2 separate regions of the Homo sapiens genome follow, and region 2 is linked to region 1. The links come from fine-mapping of genetic effects on gene expression. Tissue or cell type: whole blood. Region 1 holds a variant in brackets; the other region holds the start of a gene. All regions are shown on one strand. Distances are from middle to middle.

The links. PIP is the estimated chance that this variant, and not a neighbour inherited with it, causes the effect.
Region 2: EVC starts here. The variant in region 1 is fine-mapped to the expression of EVC in whole blood (TOPMed, PIP above 0.99).

What each region holds. Positions count from the first base shown.
Region 1 is chr4:5,729,597-5,734,596 of GRCh38, reverse strand. EVC (EvC ciliary complex subunit 1) reads right to left here. Exons shown (of 21, transcript NM_153717.3): 4 at 2,940-3,172; 5 at 1,162-1,246. Among named protein-coding and RNA genes, the nearest start is that of EVC, 21 kb to the right of the region's middle. The variant G/C (reference allele first, on the strand shown) is at 2,598.
Region 2 is chr4:5,708,580-5,713,642 of GRCh38, reverse strand. EVC (EvC ciliary complex subunit 1) reads right to left here and starts at 2,442. Exons shown (of 21, transcript NM_153717.3): 1 at 2,089-2,442. The coding sequence starts at 2,262. It also overlaps a transcript of EVC2 not described here. RefSeq lists enhancers at 799-1,108, 1,694-1,763, 4,525-5,063 and silencers at 2,234-2,383, 2,434-2,483, 4,995-5,044.

The sequences.
Region 1 (5,000 bases):
CAGCCTCCATCTCCTGGACTCAAGTGTTCCTCTCACCTCAGCCTCCTGAGTACCTAGGACTATAGGCACACACCACTGCACCAGGCTAAGTGTTTGTTTGTTTGTTTGTTTTTGTTTTTGGTAGAGATAGGGTTTTGCCATGTTGCCCAGGCTGGTCTCAAATTCCTGGGCTTAAGCAATCCTCCCACCTCAGCCTCCCAAACCCTGATATTATAGTCGTGAGCCACCATGCCTGGCCTCCAACGTGATGTTCTTGCTCTTCTCCAGTTTGTAAGAGTGCCCTGTAGACATATCTGTGTGTCTGTCCACCTGTTTCTAGCTCTCCTCTTTCTCTCATCTGCCTTCTCTCTGTAGGGTCTCATTCCTCATTCAGTAATTCAGAGAATGTGCCTTATGGAGAAATAACACTTTTTTTTAACCCCCGTCATCTTGATGCCTGAATAAACCCACCGGGGTTCTGCGGCTAAAGTGGGACTCCTCTCTCTGGCTTCCCATAGCTCAGGTCCGTGGCTGATTCAATCAGAGGCCAGGTGCATCTGGCAGAGACTAATGTTGTTTTCCCCACATCCACAGTTCTGAGTTCTTGTTCATTCAGTCAAGAGAACACGTGGCCCCATGAAAAGGTACTGAACTTCTCATCTCAGTGCCACTCCTGCAGCTTTATAACTTTGGGTAAATCCTCTGCCCTGTGCCTCAGTTTTCTCACCTGCAGAGTGGACATGATAATGACACCCGCCCCTCTGGGTTGTGCTGAGGTTTAAGTGTAATACTCCTGGGACCTCGTACATAGCAAGACTCAAGAAAATTCATGCTCATAAATATTCTTATCATTATTATCATTCCTTTAAACATATTGTTCTCTTTTAAATATCTTTTATCTCTATCTCCAGCAGGAGGTGTAGCCCGGGAGGAGGCACTCATCTTTCTGCTGAGGCCCCTACAGCTCTGGTTGAAGTCAAGGCCATGCCCCACCAACAGGCGTGAAGTGCTTTTCCATTTTGTGGCTGCATGCCTGACAGCGCCGCTTTCCCCCACCTCACAGCGGCTCTGTTTCCACTGATGTCTGCCTCTCAAGGGTCTCTGGGACTCACTGCACACAGAGTCCTTGTCTCCCAGCTCCTGTCCCCATGAAAAGGAGGGAATGCGAACATCTCCACCTACCATATGCTTTTCCTGCCTCAGTGCCGTGTCCAAATGCAGCAGGTCTTTTAAGTGAAGGCTGTAGATACACAGGTCAACGTCTACACTGCAAAATAAAATGAGAAGCGGAAAAGACTTTCAGGGTATCGGAAATGAAGAGTAAGAATATTGGCACGTCCCTCATCAGTACAAGCCACAGCACACCCTGCCTCAAACTCTCATTCTGCAGCATGCTGAGGTCCTTACGCTCACTCCAGGTTTATAAGAAGGGATCAAATGAGCTGTTTGAAACCCACTAATGGCCATAAGAGAACAGTTGGTGTCAGAGACATAGGTGCCTGGGACTTCCAAGAGAAAACCAATGGAGAGAGGGAAGGGAGAGAAATAAAAATGACGTTTCCTCCTTTGAGTATTTTCTAAAAAAAAATTTATTTACTTATCTTTTTAGAAATAGGGTTTTGCTCTGTCTCCCAGGCTGGAGTGCAGTGGTACAATCACGGCTTACTGCAGCCTCCACCTCCCGGGCTCAAGCAATCCTCCCACCTCAGCCTCCCGTGTAGCTCGGACTACAGGCATGCACCACCATACCCGGTTGATTTTGGATTTTATTTTAGAGATGGGGTCTCACTATGTTGCCTGGGCTGGTCTTAAACTCCCGAGCTCAAGCAATCCACCCACCTTGGCCTCCCAAATGTTGGGATTACAGGCATGAGCCATGGTGCCCAACCTCAAGCATTTTCATGTCTATCATCACGTGTCACCTTTCCTCGGTGCCTTAGCAGAGACATTCTCATGCCCATTTTACAGATGCAGAAACTGACTCAGGGAAGAGAGAATCAGACAAATCAAGTGACCATCATAGGGTCAACGGGGGCAGATACATGGCAGAGTGTAAAAGTCTTTGACCTTTTTTCCCTCATAGGCAAATGCATTTTAAATGATGACTCTCCCACCCAAACCGTTTCAAATCCTCTAAGTCCCAAATGCTGAAAGCAAGCCGTTCTAAGCCAGGGCTGGCCAGTCCAAGAAGGCCCCTCTTCAACGAAGTCCCTTCTGCCTGGGCCACTTTCAGGCTCAAGGTGCTGAGCCCAGTGTTTCTGCAGCAACTCTGAGCAGAGGCTGTGCCCTGGATCATCCCACCTCTTGGACTCAGCGGAATTTTGGAGCAGAGAGAGGCCTGAGGCCTGGTGTGTGAACCCGCCAGACTGAGCTTCTTAAGCCCCCACCACGTGCGGAGCCCTGCTCTGGGTTGGGTCAAATCCGGCTCCGTCACTCACGGCTGTGTGACCAGCAAGTCACGCAGCCTCTCTGTGTTTCCCTTTATTCTTTGTGAACTGGAGGAAATGACAGTACCAACTTCATAGGGGTGTTAAACGGAATTCATTCACTCACTGATTAATATTTACTGATTGCTGAACTTGTCCCAGGATCCCCCTCACTGGGCAAAATCCTCATGA[G/C]ATCATCAATCCCTGTAAAGTGCTTAGCACTCTGCCCGGTACTCAGAAGTACCCACTTAATCAACTTCGCCAGTAGCTGGGAGCACGCCAGTGATTAAATGAGGCCTCCCTGTCATCTCTCCCCGGGGCTCAGGCCTGACTCCATAACCCCAGTGTTGGGCAATACAGCACAGGAAGTGACAAAGGCCTCTGGGGCTCCGATGGTGACGCTGGGTCGCTGTGTGTCCCTGGCAGAGTCACTGAACCTCTCTGGGCCTCTGTTTCCTCCTCTGACAATGATGTGACTCCCGGCCCACTCCAAGAGGACTGGAAGCCTCATCCTCCATTGCCCGCTCTCCTTACCTCTCGCAGGCCAGCACTTCAGGGAAGGCGTTCACCCGGAGGAAGGTGCGGCTGAGAAACCTGTCATCGCTGGTGGCCGAGTGGACGCTGGATGAGGAGCTGCAGTCGTCCTTCTCACCCTGGCTCAGGCTCCCCAGACTGCTGGAAGGAGAGGCCTCTACCGGCTGGTGTGGCAAAACAGCCTGCTTTAAGTTTTCATGCAGAGACGGGTTGGAGGAGCCATCGGCCAGAGGCTGGGGTGGCAGTAGGAGTCACACTCAGTCCATGTGATGCCTCTGGGATTTGATCTAGTATTCATAATTCTACCAGTGATTCACGCTAGCCGCTCACAGGAAGGTCTGCCTGGAGGAGACTGGCCAGGGTGCCAGCAGACACCACAGAGTTTCCGTCCCAGGTTCTGCCACATCGACAGCCCAGAGGCCCGAATCACAGTTCACTTGTCCTCACAAGGCCAGCCCCTCTGCACCAGGTTCCTTCCCCTAAACTGCCAACCTGGATCTGTGCCCCGGACACCCAGCGCACCCTCCTCCCAGCTGCCAACTCTGACCTACCTCCTCCATAGCCACCGCTTGCCCTGACCCAGTTCTCTCCTTGCTGCTGACCCCCTGGCCTGCTCCCTCCACGAATCCTGCCAACCACCTGTCCTTCGCCTGCACAGAGCAGGAGTCACCCTCCTGCCCTCTGCCCACCGACAGGCTCCACGCTCCTAATCAAGAAGCTGGAACACCATGCACACCATGCACACCACGCCCACAGGAGGTCACAGCCTGGGGCCTGGCATGGCTAGAGGGCCCAGCAAATGTCAGCCTCCACCTCTGGCTGCCCGAGCCACAGTGAAGTGGCTCTGGCTTAGACGCTCCTGGTGACTTCATAATTCTGGCCTTTCCAGACTTTGGTCCCCCTACCTGAAACACCCCCCATTTGTTGTTTGCTGGGCAGAAGCGTCCCTTCCTCCAGGCGTGGATCCTGGACCCCATACTGGCTCCACAGGTCCCTGGGGATCTGCCTCTTGCCTATTTCATCATGCACTGTCCTGCATTCTCGGTGTATTTCAATCCACTCAGGCAGTGAGGGCCTCCAGGGTGGGGCTGACGCTCTGCTGACTATGGCGTGATCCCCAGGGCCCACGCAGGGCCTACCCAGAGGATGGAGAAATGCCCTTCATCCACCCACCCGTCCCACCCTTCAACCACGTGAAGGATGTGGTTCCCAATGTGGGTTCCAGGGAACAGCTCCTTGAGCCAGTTACTGCTCACCACAAAGTTTCCATGGAAAAATTAGTTCGGTAAAGCTTGTGTTAAACAAGGTGAAATATTCCTTTGGTGCAGGAATTCTCAGAACCTCCAATAGGCTTTGGGTGTCTTCAAAAGCAAATAATAATTGACAAGATCCTAACATGTTGTGAGTGCTCAGATGTTGTGCACTGTTCTGAGCCCTCATGTATGTTATCTTGTGTAACACCCAAAACAACTGGGCGAGGCAGGAGCACCATCATCCCCATTTGACAGATAAACAGACTGAGGCAGGAGAAGTCAGGAAACGCCACACAGTGAATGGCTGAGATGGGGTTAGGACTGAGATGCTGTGACTCCAGAGCTCGTCATCCTGAATACCAAGAAAGCAAGCCACATTTTCCCAAACTTATTTCACTAGGAAACTTTTTTGCACAAAGCACCTCCCAGGCTGAGGGCTCCTGGAAGCGCCATGGAAGGTGTAACCATAGCCAGGTGTTGGGGTCTGACTCTGGCTCTGCCACTTCCTGTCACGTGACCTCAGGTCACTCGCCTCTCTGGGCCTCAGTTTCCTTACGTGTAAAGTGGAGACATTATTTACCTGATAGGCATAACACCAAGTTGAAACGCCTGATGCATGACAAATACTTAACACAACACTGGCCCTGTCCACATAAGTGTTCAGTAAGTGCCAGCTGCTGGCATTATTAGTCCAGGGCTCTGTGAATGAGGATTAGCGCTCAGAACTGAGTCGGTATCAGTGTTTGTATTAGTGTTAAAAAGGCAGAGAGGGAGCTGTCCTACTGTGCTGTTACCTCGTGTCCCTGGG
Region 2 (5,063 bases), 21 kb after region 1:
TGCAATGGTGCGATCTTGGCTCACTGCAACCTCCGCCTCCCAGGTTCCAGCGATTCTCCTGCCTCAGCCTCCTGAGTAGCTGGGATTACAGGCTCCTGCCACTATGCCAGCTAATTTTTGTATTTTTAGTAGAGGCAGGGTTTCACCATATTGGCCAGGCTGGTCTCGAACTCCTGACCTCAGTTGAACAGCTCGCCTTGGCCTCCCAAAGTGCTGGGGTGACAGGCATGAGCCACAGTGCCCAGCCTGGGCATTATCTTTTGCAGGCAGCCAGGAGTCACTGGAGGTGTTTAATCAGGAGAATCATATTGTCTGACATACATTTTATAAATAAAAACTAGAGGGAGGAGACAGGAGGAAAAGAATCTCATTAGAAAGAAGGTTGTCGCAAGGATCACATCAAACTGTAACAAAATCCTATTAGTCCTACTTTGAGCCACAGACCCCTCCATGGCTGCCACCCTGGTCTGAGCCACCATCACCCTCAACTGACTAGCTGTGCAAACCCAGATGGCTTGGTTAATCCCGGTAAGCCTCAGCTGACTCAGCTAGCAAATGGGATACTAACCACCACCTCACCAGGTAGCAGATACTTAAGGCTCTAGCTTTGGGGTTCAAACCAACTAGGGTTGAAATTCAGTCCCACTGTTTACTCATCGTGGCACCCTGGACAAACACCCTTGCAGAGCATCCCCTGCCTCACTGTAAAGTGGGGATAATGGCAGTTCCTCCACCTCATGGGCTGGAGGATAAAGAACCAGATGTCTATAAACATTGCACAGGACACCCAGCCAAGTCTCTGTGTGTTACTTCCCTTTCTCTCTCCATGCAACAAGCCAGCATCTCTTAGTGTCTCTTAATCACCAGCAGGATCTGACAACCCCCAACTCACCTACGAGCATCTTGCATTATCTCAGTTTCAGCCCTCATCAGCTCTTTGCGGTGTAATGCTCCCCATGAGTCACCAAATTCCCCTATATTCTGAAAGAGCCTGTGCCTACATGGAAACCGCACAAGATCTGTCTCATCTTCCCACGGGCCAGAAATGGGGGTAGCAAGACCACGCCATCTTGTTTCTGATCGCGCAGACTTTACTCTCCTCCCACCCCAAAGAGGCAGAAGTTGCAAGGACCTAAAATAGTGGCCATACCACTATTCATGGAATGCCTGCTATATGCCAGGTGTTGCCATGCACAGCCAATTCCATGAGGGCCACTTGCATAGGAAGCATCCACTGGTCTCCTTCAGGCAGCCACCCCGACCCTCATCCATGAAGAACACAGTGGCTTTGGGGTTAGACACTTCTGTCACTTTAGTAAGTTGCTTAACCTCTCTGTGCCTCAGTTTCCTCATCTGCAAAGCAGAGACAAACTGTTGTGGAGATTCATTGAGATCATTTAGGGAGAGGGTCTAGTTCAGTGCCTGGTACACAGCACTTAATAAACGCTAGCATTGCCAGCGTCCCATCGCAGACTCCCCATGCGGTGTCATAACCGATAGTTTACTTGCAAACTTGCAATTCGTCCTTCTCCTTGAGGTTCACAGCCTCAAGGCAGGGTCTCTCCCGCTCATGAATGTCGTCCCTAGGCCAGTGACTGGCTGTAGAAGGTGCCTGAAAACTTTTACTGTGGGGTGAATGAAAAAATGAATGCCAATGTGGCAGCTGGGACTCAGGCCAGGCGACGTAACCCACACCGCAAGGATGGAAGAGGCAGAAGCAGGAATAGGCATTCAGGCGTGGGAGCCCCAGCCGTCCTTCTGTCCACCATGGCGAGCAGGGCCAGCGTCCTGTCCAAACCCTTGGTGCTGCAGATGAGGAGACCGAGGCGTGGCGCAGTTGGGCTGCTGTCAAGGATCACCCAACGGAGTGGGATGTAACAGGCACCGCAGGGGACCCCAGGCCAATGCCCTTTAGTCACGCCGCCACCTCCCTCCTGGAGCAGAAGGGGAACCCGACGCCTAAGCGGTTGCGTGCGAAGTTCCCAACCAGGCTCAAGGAGTCGCAGAGCCGGGGCTCCGGGCCCGCAGGACCCAGAAGCCACGCGCCCCGCGCTCCCCGCCCCGCCGCTGTCTGCTCGGCCGACCCACCTGGTGTCGCGTGCGCTGGCGGCCCGCGCGGCAGCCAAGCCAAAGGCCGAGGCCGAGGCCGAGCGCGGCGCCCAGCAGCACGGCGGGGGCCAGCAGGGCGGGCGCCGGCCGCAGCGCGTCCCGCCCCAGCAGCAGCCGCGCGTCGCTCTTGCAGGCCGCCCCGCCGCGGGCCATCCGGGGCGCTCAGGCTGCCGCCCCGCCGCATCCCGCCGCCTGCTGCACCGTCCCCGCCAGGGCGGCGACGCGGGACTTGGAGCCCGGGCGGGCCAGGGGCGCGGCCCGCTCCGCAGACTTTCTGGCCTGTGCAGTCTCCCGACTCCTGCTTCTCTCCCCTTCCCTGCTTCGCCGAGCCGGAGGGAGGAGCCTGGATCACCGCTCAAAACTTTCAGCCACCCCCGCCCCAGCCCTGCCCCTGCACTGAGCATGCCCAGAGACAGACGCGCCTCCCAGCCCCGGACCCTTCCGGAGGGGGGCCCGGTTTCCACCCCTTTAACTTTACTGAGGCTTAGAAGGCTCCTTTAAGTTTTTTGAGGCTTAGAATATGCTACGCATTTAGCTTAATGATCTCATTAACTTTCTCAATAACCCTCTGCGGTGGGTGCTCCGCCCATCCTCCTGATGAAGACGCTGGGATCAATGCAATTCCAACCCCCTGCCCTTGCCCCTAACCTCTACCCATCAACCTTCCCGGGAACACACCGCCCTCCACGCCTCTGAACTTGCTCACGCGAAGACTCCTGTTTTAATCTTATTTTGTCCCAGGGAAGGTCGAGACAATGGGTGGAGACACCGTTACACTCAGTCTCCACTAGGAGGATGGGTAAAGGGATCCTTACACCCAGACCCCACTGAGACGATGGGTAGAGAGACCCTTACACCTAGTCCCCACTAGGACCAAGGGTAGAGAGACCCTTACACCCACTCCCCACTGAGACAATGGATAAAGAGACCCTTACACCCGCTCCCCACTAGGACCAGGACACTGCACCATCCTTCATTTACTCAGCACTTGGAGAGAATCTGTTGTGTGTGTGTTGCAGGCTGGGGGATAGGCCAGCCACAAACCAGGCAGTGTCCAGGCTAGTGAGTATCTCACAGTTGTTTAGAGTGATAAAAAATTAAAGGAGTTCATCACTGTGTTTGCTTTAAACAAACATTTATGGGGTAGCTACTAGATGTTTGCTTTTGTCCTGGGTGCCTGGGTAAAGCACACATGCACATGCACGACTGCACACTTGCACTCAGGGGCACACACACACACACACCTACCCTGTGGAGCTTAATTCCCTGTGTGGGCCGGGCTAGGGGACACCATGGGGATCTGCTTCAGCAGAGGAGGGCTTTGTCCTTTCAGCCTAGATGTCCAGCTTGTTTCTAGTTTGTTTCATCATTTCCTCATGGCAAGATGGGAACTGTTATCCAAATTCTTCATCTTTTTTTAATAAATGAAGAAACTGACAGCTGGAGAGGAGAGGTGACTCATTTGCAATTAAGGAGTGGGGCAGAATTCTTGTCTCATTTACACCTGTGTCTGGCTTCAGGGCAAACTCTCTGCTATGTGGAGCTTCTTATATATTACCTTAGAAGCATCTCCAAGGTTCCTGGGGACATGTATGGGGGCAATAACTTGACGCTCTTGTTTTACATTTCCATGAATGCTTAGGCTTTAGTTTTTAAAATGTGGTGTTTGGGCCAGGTGTGGTTGCTCACGCCTGTAATCCCAGCACTTTGGGAGGCTCAAGTGGAGGATTGTCTGAGCCCAGGAGTTTAAGACCAGTCTTGGCAACATAGTGAGACCCTGACTCCATAAAAAATACTAAGGAGATTTTTTAAATGTAGGGTTATTTGCTTTTTACTTTATCATAAAGTTGTTGACTATTAAATTAACCTTTAAATGACTGACTGTCAAACAACTCCAACGGTCCAGCAACATGCTTGGCATTTAGCCTGTGGTCTTGTCACATGCCTGACAGCTGCCACGTACCCCCTGGTGTGGGGAACTTGGCTTATAAATTCTCAGCTTCTCGAACCCCATGGCCTTGTCCATGTTAGGTCAGGAAAGGCCTGTCCTTGGATGGTCTGGGTTATGGGGAGAGAGGCTGCCAGGGGCCAGGCTCGCTGGCCTGAGACTTTATAGACAGCCTAACAGCCTGCCCCGCAGGAAGGCTGGCGGGAGTGGAGCCCTCCCCCGTCAACAGGTGTCAGCTGTCACCCAGGACCTAGGCAGGGATGAGGAAGCACACAAAAGGCTCCACCAGTCCCCCTTTTTGTGTCTTTCTCCTCCTCCTCCTCCTGCGTCCCTTGGCAAAGCAAATCCCTGTCCCCTCGGAGAGTTCAGGGAGAGCTTGCTTAGGGCTGCGACTTCAGACACCAGCTCCCCTCTTTCTAGGTCCCCAGAGAGGTGGCCCAGCGGCTGGCCTGTTTCCCACTGGGAATGCGAGGGGCACCCGGGCCGGCCCAGGGCTGACCCACAGCAGGCTCGGGCAGTGGGTGCTCAGCTGGTCTGCACTGAACGCAACCGGAAGTGAGGGTCCTTTTCCTTCTCTGCGGCCACCCCCTCCTCCCCGAGCTTTCCTGAACCTTCTGGGTGCTCCAGGACTCCCGGCCCCGCGCTCCAAATGCTTCTCCGTTTTCTAAGCGGGGATGGGGAAACTCTGGATTCACATCCGTGTGTCAGGAAACCGTTCCCAGGGGAAGTGCGTCTGAGCTGAGGCTTACAGACCCAGGTAGGCGGTAGCGGAGGGGCCCTTGGGGTCCTGGTAACCTCGGGGAGCAGGGGAGTGACCCGCTCTGATTCGGTTTGGGCGCAAGCAAACCCAGGCCTGGCCGCCGGGCGCCTGGGCCGCGCCAACTCGCTCTCCCCCTCCCACGCCCGTCCGGCACCTCCTGGCCCGCCAAGCCCCAGATGCGGGTGTTTGTTCCAGAAAACTTTCGGCGGCGGCTCGCACTGAGCATGCTCGGCGGCGGGGCGGGCC